Linked DNA regions of Homo sapiens. The protein of the gene in region 1 purifies or fractionates together with the protein of each later gene. This does not show direct contact. Each region holds a gene or a part of one and is shown in the gene's direction. Other genes may lie near its edges.

What was found.
Region 2: the proteins of CTNS (region 1) and IFITM2 fractionate together in Homo sapiens (co-fractionation; one large-scale study listed by BioGRID). This does not show direct contact.
Region 3: the proteins of CTNS (region 1) and ENPP4 fractionate together in Homo sapiens (co-fractionation; one large-scale study listed by BioGRID). This does not show direct contact.

Annotation. Positions count from the first base shown.
Region 1 is NC_000017.11:3,660,666-3,663,664, forward strand, and holds the end of CTNS (cystinosin isoform 2 precursor), read left to right. Parts: coding exon of another isoform or gene 1-69; 3' UTR 70-2,438; downstream 2,439-2,999. UniProt on the Homo sapiens protein: Cystine/H(+) symporter that mediates export of cystine, the oxidized dimer of cysteine, from lysosomes. Plays an important role in melanin synthesis by catalyzing cystine export from melanosomes, possibly by inhibiting pheomelanin synthesis.
Region 2 is NC_000011.10:306,390-309,927, forward strand, and holds IFITM2 (interferon-induced transmembrane protein 2), read left to right. Parts: upstream 1-1,426; 5' UTR 1,427-1,803; coding exon 1,804-2,049; intron 2,050-2,623; coding exon 2,624-2,776; 3' UTR 2,777-3,006; downstream 3,007-3,538.
Region 3 is NC_000006.12:46,143,402-46,147,056, forward strand, and holds the end of ENPP4 (bis(5'-adenosyl)-triphosphatase ENPP4 precursor), read left to right. Parts: coding exon 1-239; 3' UTR 240-3,287; downstream 3,288-3,655. UniProt on the Homo sapiens protein: Hydrolyzes extracellular Ap3A into AMP and ADP, and Ap4A into AMP and ATP. Ap3A and Ap4A are diadenosine polyphosphates thought to induce proliferation of vascular smooth muscle cells.

The DNA of each region.
Region 1 (2,999 bases):
GCACCAAGCTTGCAGCCGAAGGCCTTGCCCCAAACTACCAGCGTTTCTGCAAGCAGCTTGAAGGGCTGACCTTGCAGCCGGGTGAGCCAAGGGCACTTTGCTGCCACCGCTGCATTCCCAGAGATCAAGCAGCCCGGTGCCGTGGCCAGTGAACTCAGAGGTGCTGGTGGACGGGCTAGGACTTTGGGGTTAGGCCATGGGGCTCTTTCTCTGAAGGCCACTTTCCTGACGTACTCTCTGTACATAACTCAGCGTCCGTGACTGCAGTAACAGCCAGCCCTACCCAGAGTATTTCTGAGCCATGAGGGGCCCACCAGATTGGTTCTGAATTGGATTCATGCCCAGCGCATTAGCATAGTAACTCCTTTCAGATTTTTTGGAGGGACGTTTGGAAGTGGCTTACTCTCTTCTGCCCTCTCTCCTACCTCCACCTTCTCAGATTAGCCCCATCTGAGCACATCCAGCTGCTCCTTACCCAGCATCTGGAGTACAGGACATAGCTCTCTCCTGCTACCAGTCTGTGCCTTAGAGGTCTGTTAGGCCTGCCAAACGGCGACCAGCTCCCCTGGAGCGAGGGCAGGCCCCTTCCCTCTCTTTCCCCAGACACCTACTTGAGACTCACCAATTTCTGGCCTGTTCAGGAGCCTCAGATAAGTATTTGTACTTGAGACCACCTCACACAATCTGTATGGGCCCAACCCTGATCTCAAACCTCCTTCCCTCTGCCCAAAGCTGTCCTTCCTATGGCAGGAGGGGTGGGGGTCCCAGGACGTGCCTCATACATGACTTGAGCTTGTCAGTCCACTGAGTTTCCTTCTACGAGATCAACGCGAGGGGCCTGTATCTTGAATTAAAACCTACTCGCTTCCTTTCTGCACTCTGTGTGCTCGATACAGAAGGCAGGTGTGCTGGCCTTCAGAGCCAGGTGCCCTGCTCCCCTCGTGTAAGGAAGCGCATAAGGTTGTGAAGGTCACTGACCCGAGAGCGCTGCGTGCTGACCCCACACTTCACTGGGGAGCCCTCTTGGGTAGCGCGAGACGCCTACCCGCCCAGGGCCAGGTCAGTCTCCCAGGCTCCGTGTCTTCACGGTTACCAGGGCACGCCACTCAATCTGGATGTGAGCCGGGGTGGATGAGGTTCTGAAGGGCACACCAGCACTGGGAGCGGGGGCAGTGGGGGTCTTATTCTCCAGACGCTTCCTCTATCTAGTTGTAACAAACGTCAAAGAATGTCAGGTCTTGTTTCTGCAGAGCAGACTTTGGCCTGACGGGGTCCACAGACCTGTTTCACTTGCAACACCCAGTAAATGTGTTACTGGGTGCCCTACTTTAAAAATCAGAGATTTCAAATGATTGACTTTTCCGGCTGAGTGCGGTGGCTCACGCCTGTAATCCCAGCACTTTGGGAGGCCAAGGCAGATGGATCACCTGACATCAGGAGTTCGAGACCAGCCTAGCCAACATTGCAAAACCCCATCTCTACTAAAGATACAAAAATTAGCTGGGCATGGTGGCGGGCACCTGTAATCCCAGCTACTTGGTTGGCTGAGGCAGGAGAATTACTTGAACCCAGGAGGCGGAGGTTGCAGTGAGCGAAGATCACGCCATTGCACTCCAGCCTGGGCAACAAGAACGAAACTCCATCTCAAAAAAAAAAAAAAATTATTGACTTTTCTTTAAAATCTGATTTGGCAGTGCTAGGTAGGTCCAGGAGTGCTAACACCTTCCCAGAGGTGGTACGCAGGTAGTCAGGTGCTCTCTGACTCACCCCCATCTGGCCAGATCACGGCCCCCAGCAACACGTGGGGTTGTGTCCCTCGCTGGGATACACGGAGTGCCCTTATAGGCAGGGAGTCTTATAGGCAGGGGTCTCTCCCAGGCACCTCTGGGTGTCCCTACGGCCCCTCCCAGGTGGGAGCTGAGGCTAGGTTGCAAAAAGGAGGTTGGGAGCAAGTAGGGGCTTCACAGTAACACCCAAGAAAGCACACGCACCCCAGGGTCCCACCCCAGTGCTCCCAGACACTCCCACAGATGTGGTTCTGGTCAGGCGCAGTGCAGCTGCTGCGGCTCCACCAGCCCCGGGCTTTCAGGCAGGTGGGCCTGGGAGTAGTTGAGCTTTGTCCCAGAACAGTGGGGGATGGGGCCATCATTAAAACCACAGCTCTGGCCCCAATATCCCACCGCCACCCCCACCCCGATATCCCAGCCCATGCCTCAGCAAAGCCCCCTGTGAATTCCAGCATTTTTATTGAGCGCACCACATCGGGGAGGGGCGGCAGTGGTTTCCACGGTAACCAAAGTAAGGCTTGTGCACTTGCTGAGCTTCCAGATGCGAATTAGTAAAAGCTAAATTCAAAAGTAGAATGGGCATCTCCAAAGAGTACGATAAAAACATTTTGTATCAAACTTGTGATTAAAAAAATACAAAAGTTAAACCCACAGGCAAAGAGGAAAATGACAATCCTGAGAGCTGCCCTGATAGGTGAGCCTCGAACCTCGTCTAAATCCGTAAGAAGGCAAACCCTGGGGAGGCCAGCACCCCTCGGGAGAGTGGGAGTGAACGCGGAGCCCACCTGGCTTCATCTGGGCAAAGCTTCGTAGCGCCTCTGGCAGGATGTGTGTCCAGTCCCCCGAGGGGCAGAGGCACTGCGGTGTGGACACACGAGGGCTGGGGGGCAGGGGCGGAGCCGAACCCTGCAGCCAGGCAAAAGCGGGAAAGGCCTGGTTCCTCCAGCATTTCCCAGCTTTTGGGGGCTCCCAAGAGATAGTGGTTCCCACTTGCCCAGCCACTGCTGTGGCCAAGCAGCAGGGTCGGACCTGAGCCTGTGGTCACAGCAGACTGGCTACTACTCAGCTCCAGGCCCTTATTTCCAATCCTCGGTGTCCAGGAGAGAAAGCCGGTCCCAGAGGCCCCAGGCCAGGGATGGGAGAAGGGAAGGAAGGCCAGGCCAGGCCTCTGGGACCAGCTATAGCCCTTCTGAGCTGGGGCCCAGCGGTCAG
Region 2 (3,538 bases), on another chromosome or scaffold:
GACATGGCCCAGAATAGAAGGCCTGTAGAGGCCTGGACATGGCTAAGCCCTTAGAGCTCACCCCAGCCAGCAGAAGGAGGAGGACTTAGGGTGTTCGACGTCGAGAAGCACTGTGAGTCGATGGTAGACACAGCCATTGTTAAAGTTAAATCTTAGGAATCTTAGAAATTATCAATAAAATTTATCTTATAGAGCCAAAGTCATCGTTACTCAAACACATCACTCTGCAGTTACACGGCTGCACGCTACCGTCATGTAAACTCTGGAATACTGACGTGGACCTGACCACCCGCTGAGGTGAAAGGCTACAGCAGGGTGAGCAGCTGCCCATCTCTGTAAATTCCACCCTCAGCGATGTCCTCTGCGGAGTCTGGCCTGGTGGGAGAATAAGCCCAGGAAAATGGGCCCATGTAGCACATCAGGAATTAAACAGGGCGCAGGTCGCGGTGCACATAGGCCTGCAGGCCACGTTCCTGCCCCTGTGACCCGCACTGTCCCCTCTGACAAGCTCAAGTGCACAGCATCAGCTCTGTTTGCTGCAATAGCCTCTGCCAAGGAAGGTCCAGGAAGAAGCCCAGAGGCCACACAAGGTGTTTCCACAGGGAGGCTGTAACCTCAGGAGCTGCTCAGAGGCAGCACCGGTTCATGGGAAAAACAGGCGGCAACTACAGGAAGCAGCTGGCACCCGTGTGAGGACCCAGGGAAGAGGCAGAGATGATCAGAACCTGGAAATCTGGAGGGTGCCCCAGGGACCAGCCAGCCAGAGCTCTGGGCAGCGTGGGTGCTGCTGGGCTGTGTGGAGCGGGTCTGGGAGCCGTCACCCAGGTGGGCCTCCAGGGGAAAGGGCCATGGCTTCTAACTCCACCGTCCAGGTCTCTGCTATTGGCATCCCACAGCCCCCTCTTCTGTCAGTGCTCCCAGAGTCCCCTTTCCTGGGCCTGGAGGGCTCCTTTGGGGCAGGCAACATTGGCCGCCAACCCTCTGACCTGCACCAGGAGACACGGGGACCTTTAACCCCCAAACCCGCATGGAGCAGGACTGCAACCCCAGCAAAGGACAAGGGATGTCAGCAGATGAGGCCTGTGACAAGTGAGATGAGGGCTTTTTTTTTTTTTTGAGACGGAGTCTGGCTCTGTTGCCCAGGCTGGAGTGCAGTGGCACAACCTTGGCTCACTGCAAGCTCCGCCTCCCCGGTTCACGCCATTCTCCTACCTCAGCCTCCCAAGTAGCTGGGACTACAGGTGCCCGCCATCACACCCGGCTAATTTTTTTTTGTATATTTAGTAGAGACGGGGTTTCACCGTGTTAGCCAGGATGGTCTCGATCTCCTGACCTCATGATCCTCCCACCTCAGCCTCCCAAAGTGCTGGGATTACAGGCGTGAGCCACGGCGCCCGGCAGAGGTGAGGGCTTTGGGGAAACGGTTGTGGGGCCTGGAGTGTGGAGGCGTCAGCGCAGGCCTGGCAGGAGCCCTGAACCGGGACAGTGAGGTCCTGCAGCTGCTGGCCTGGGGTGTGGAGACTCCCAACACAGGGGAAGTCTCCAGGACCCCACACCACTAACAAGATGAGACTTGTGCTCCTTTGGGCTCTAGAGAGGAAGCCCCTCTTAGCCCTCAGCCCCTCTTTCCTCCCTCTCCTAAAGTAATTTGATCCTCAGGAATTTGTTCTGCCCTTATCTGGCCCTGGCCAGCTCTGCATTTGACAAATGCCAGGAAGAGGAAACTGTTGAGAAAACGGAACTACTGGGGAAAGGGAGGGCTCACTGAGAACCATCCCGGTAACCCGATCACCGCTGGTCACCATGAACCACATTGTGCAAACCTTCTCTCCTGTCAACAGCGGCCAGCCTCCCAACTACGAGATGCTCAAGGAGGAGCAGGAAGTGGCTATGCTGGGGGTGCCCCACAACCCTGCTCCCCCGATGTCCACCGTGATCCACATCCGCAGCGAGACCTCCGTGCCTGACCATGTGGTCTGGTCCCTGTTCAACACCCTCTTCATGAACACCTGCTGCCTGGGCTTCATAGCATTCGCGTACTCCGTGAAGGTGCGTATGGCCCTGGCGGAAATCCAGGGGGTGCCGGTGAGCCTGGGGCTCCACCTGCCCACATGCTGCCTGGGGTGGGGACTTGTGTGTCCCTGTGACTGTGAGTTTGTGTGCACGTCTGTCCTGTGTGTGCCCACGTCAGTGGCTTTGTCTGTGTGATCTGTGTGTGTGTGTGGCTTGGGGAATCTGCCCAGTGCAGGTCTAGGAGGAGGCTCCAGGAGGCTGGCTGGCTGGCTCAGAGTCTGTCCCCGGCTATCCACTAGCCCAGAGCAGTTCTCCCTATAGCCCAGTAAGAAATTACACCTTCACCTTCCAGACTGGCACCCAGGCTCTCCCAGAAAGTGAGAAGGGAACTCACAGGTGACTTCACCCCATGGTGGGGAGAACAGCCTGTGCTGGGGCCAAGGCAGAAGGAGGATGAGCCCCGAGGCTCCTGGAGAGTCTGAGCCGGGTGAGGAAGGGGAGGAGGTGGTCCCTGATCTCAGGGCAGGGAGGAGACAGTGAGGAGCTGGAGCCATAGCACGCGGCTCTCAGCTGGGGGATCCTGGTCCCCTCACCATCTCCTCTCCCCCAGTCTAGGGACAGGAAGATGGTTGGCGACGTGACCGGGGCCCAGGCCTATGCCTCCACCGCCAAGTGCCTGAACATCTGGGCCCTGATTTTGGGCATCTTCATGACCATTCTGCTCATCATCATCCCAGTGTTGGTCGTCCAGGCCCAGCGATAGATCAGGAGGCATCATTGAGGCCAGGAGCTCTGCCCGTGACCTGTATCCCACGTACTCTATCTTCCATTCCTCGCCCTGCCCCCAGAGGCCAGGAGCTCTGCCCTTGACCTGTATTCCACTTACTCCACCTTCCATTCCTCGCCCTGTCCCCACAGCCGAGTCCTGCATCAGCCCTTTATCCTCACACGCTTTTCTACAATGGCATTCAATAAAGTGTATATGTTTCTGGTGCTGCTGTGACTTCACCTGGGGAGCGGTCCTGCTGGTTCTGAGATTAAATGTAATGCCAAACGTTCTTGCCTTAGCCACACCAAAGAATTGGGTGTGGCGGCTGCCCGCGGCGAGTGATGGAGACACAGACCAAGAGAAGAAAAAAACTGTAGGTTTTATTGAGCAGAGTGACAGTACAAAGCTTACACAGCATGGAAGGGGTCCGGAGAGGGTAGCCACTGTTGGTTTTGGGTGATTGCCTTTTAATCTCTTTAAGGCGGGAAATACATGTGGTGGGAAGATGTTACCAGAGAGAGAAACAAAGGCAGTAAATTATTTTGTGACATGTCTTAGATTTTGAGGAAAAACAGAATTGCAACTTAGGTTTTATCTAATTTTATCTACTTTATGACCTTGCAGCAGCATGGCAAAAGAGACAGGATTTTACAGGACTTTACAAAGTATGTTCACAAGGAATTGGAATTGGGAGCATAGATAAGGTCCGCTGGTCACAGAAAAAGGGTCTTTTAACATTCCTTTTAGTTTTAGGGG
Region 3 (3,655 bases), on another chromosome or scaffold:
GCCACATCCTGGGATTAAAACCACATCCCAATAATGGGACCTTTGGTCATACTAAGTGCTTGTTAGTTGACCAGTGGTGCATTAATCTCCCAGAAGCCATCGCGATTGTTATCGGTTCACTCTTGGTGTTAACCATGCTAACATGCCTCATAATAATCATGCAGAATAGACTTTCTGTACCTCGTCCATTTTCTCGACTTCAGCTACAAGAAGATGATGATGATCCTTTAATTGGGTGACATGTGCTAGGGCTTATACAAAGTGTCTTTGATTAATCACAAAACTAAGAATACATCCAAAGAATAGTGTTGTAACTATGAAAAAGAATACTTTGAAAGACAAAGAACTTAGACTAAGCATGTTAAAATTATTACTTTGTTTTCCTTGTGTTTTGTTTCGGTGCATTTGCTAATAAGATAACGCTGACCATAGTAAAATTGTTAGTAAATCATTAGGTAACATCTTGTGGTAGGAAATCATTAGGTAACATCAATCCTAACTAGAAATACTAAAAATGGCTTTTGAGAAAAATACTTCCTCTGCTTGTATTTTGCGATGAAGATGTGATACATCTTTAAATGAAAATATACCAAAATTTAGTAGGCATGTTTTTCTAATAAATTTATATATTTGTAAAGAAAACAACAGAAATCTTTATGCAATTTGTGAATTTTGTATATTAGGGAGGAAAAGCTTCCTATATTTTTATATTTACCTTTAATTAGTTTGTATCTCAAGTACCCTCTTGAGGTAGGAAATGCTCTGTGATGGTAAATAAAATTGGAGCAGACAGAAAAGATATAGCAAATGAAGAAATATTTTAAGGAAACCTATTTGAAAAAAAAAGCAAAGACCATTTGATAAAAGCCTGAGTTGTCACCATTATGTCTTAAGCTGTTAGTCTTAAAGATTATTGTTAAAAAATTCAGAAGAAAAGAGAGACAAGTGCTCTTCTCTCTATCTATGCTTAATGCCTTTATGTAAGTTACTTAGTTGTTTGCGTGTGCCTGTGCAAGTGTGTTTGTGTGTGGTTGTGTGGACATTATGTGATTTACTATATAAGGAGGTCAGAGATGGACTGTGGCCAGGCTTCCACATTCCTGAAGCACACAGATCTCAGGAAAGGTTATTTTTGCACTTCATATTTGTTTACTTTCTCCTAACTCACAAGTTAAAATCATAACTTAATTTCATTAACTTTTATCATTTAACTCTCTCATGTTTGTTGTAACCTGAGGTATCCAAATGCTACAGAAAAATTTATGACCCAAATACAAATCTCAATTTGACTGGGACAGAATGAGGAATGGAGATTTTTGTATTTATCTTTGGGACTTTATGCCTTACTTTTTAGGCTATAGAATAGTTAAGAAATTTTAAACAAAATTTAGTATCTTTTGGTCTTTCACACCATTCATATGTTAAGTGGCAGAATAGCCTTAGTGCTACCTCCACTTTTTTCTCCAGTATTTGCATCACAGAAATAATCCCTCTGTTTAACATGTTTGTTCAGAGCCAAGGGTTTATTGTGAAGAACTGTCATCCTGCCTTTGCTAGCTGGTACCTTCTAGTAATCAAAATTAATATGAAGAAACTAGGTTGTGACAGACTAGATTATATTTAGTAGGGGAAAAATTGGGCTCAAGAACCATTCATCAGTACGTGAGACAAGCAGTTAATAGTATGATCTTTAAAGTTTTGACAATATAAAATAAACTTGGTAACTGTTTTACAAATATAAAAGTATAATAAATATGCAGCCCAGTTAAATATTGATTATCTGTGATGGTAAAGAACAACAGTGGTGCCAGTCATCAAACATACAGTGCGTCCTATTGAGTCACTGCTAATTTCTTGAGCCTGGTATTTGCTGCCTATTGTATTTGTGGTTGTTGAGAGGCATTTTCAAACCCTGTATAAATAATCCATGCTGTTGGTCATAAGTTAACTGTATTAAGAACAGTAAAATAAATAAAAACCAATAGTACTAATTTTGCTTTAAAAAAATTTCTAATTTTTTTCACATAAAACAATTATCCTAAAGGTTAATAGTTGATCGAAACAGAATAATAGAAAAATTCTACTTTAATTTCCATTAAAAAGCAAATAGCATTGACACATTTAAAGCTTTTCATTTAAAGTAGTGGATGTTTTTGAAGTATCTAAAATAGTAGCAGAATATTTTATACTTGGTCCTTGCAATGGTGTGAGTTTTAATGATTGCATTATCGTGATTGGTGGTTATGAGTTTCAGAAATCTATACTTGGCATCCAACTCATGAGTGGATTTTATATAGGATGGAACAGGAAGGTATGTCCTGTCAGTATCTTAACCCTTTCAACAAGACATTTACCTATTTGTCTTTCCTTACGTTCTCAAAATATTAACTCGAATTGTAAATTAAGCAAAAATTTAAAAAGTATATGTTGATGGGACAAGAAGAATAGTATTTATTTAATAAAACATATATTATATTGAACTATGTGTTAATTCATTTGTATCTTTTAAAAAATTATCACTGTTAAAGCCATTGACTCCTTTAGTACACTGAGAAAAATCTTATAGTAAAACTAGCCTTTCACATTAAGGTTTTGGTGTGTATTTTGTTAAATAACTAACATGCTGCTCTATTTTCTGGGTGTAGAAAGTATTTGGCTCTAGGAAACATTTACTTGTTTGTGAAAACAATACCCCAAGGTAATAGGAAAAGTTTGAGTTAAGTGTTTTTAATTCAGTCAGTGAATTCAGAATAAGTACATTCATGTATAACATAGGGACAGTTCTGCTGCTGTTATTTATATGCAATTCTTCTGGTAAATAGCAATAGAATAAAACATATTTCAATGTTTGTGTATAGGTTTTATATTATTATTCCACTAGGAATGGCATAAGAATTTATAGATAAATTCTTGTAACATTAAAGGATTAAAATGTTTTTACATTGTTTTTGGGTGTCTCCTTCTTGTGCCCATATCTGATAAGCTTTATGGATTATTGCATTTAATTCCTTTTATTTGGAGGGTTTTACTTCCTTGTTAACATATAAAGTTATAAATGAAGGACAAGGAGGAGATGGAAAATGTGTATTTATTGTTAATTCTTAAAATAGTGTGTAAATAAAATAACATCAGTGTGCTTTAAAGAAATGTGTATGTAGTGCCTTAATTTAAATTAAAATATTTTTGACTGTTACTTGAGTTCAGAATTAATGACTTTGTTCATGATTTTTAAAATGTGTGTGAATAAAATCTACCAAAAAATTCTTACTGTAATTATTAAATATAAAGTTCAGTGTCACTGGTGATTTTTACATTTGTTACCTTCTTGCAAAATATACTTACTGTGCTAGATGTTGACATGACTTAGTAATATTATAGAAGCCCACATAGGTGTTTATTAGGATTTTTTAACTCTTTAACAAAAAGTTTAAAACAGTGTGTAAGTATACAATCCAGCATAAGAACATCATTGGAAAGAAAGCCAAGATAAGTTTTATAGAACCTCCAGAGCTATGATTTATTGGCTTATGGTAGAAGAGAAGAGGTTTGAAAAAAACCGATTATAAAATAGTGGGGATGGTAGGGGAAGCATTATAATGTTTAAACTTTGTACATAGCCATAGGCATTTAATGACTTGTCCAATTGAATATAGAT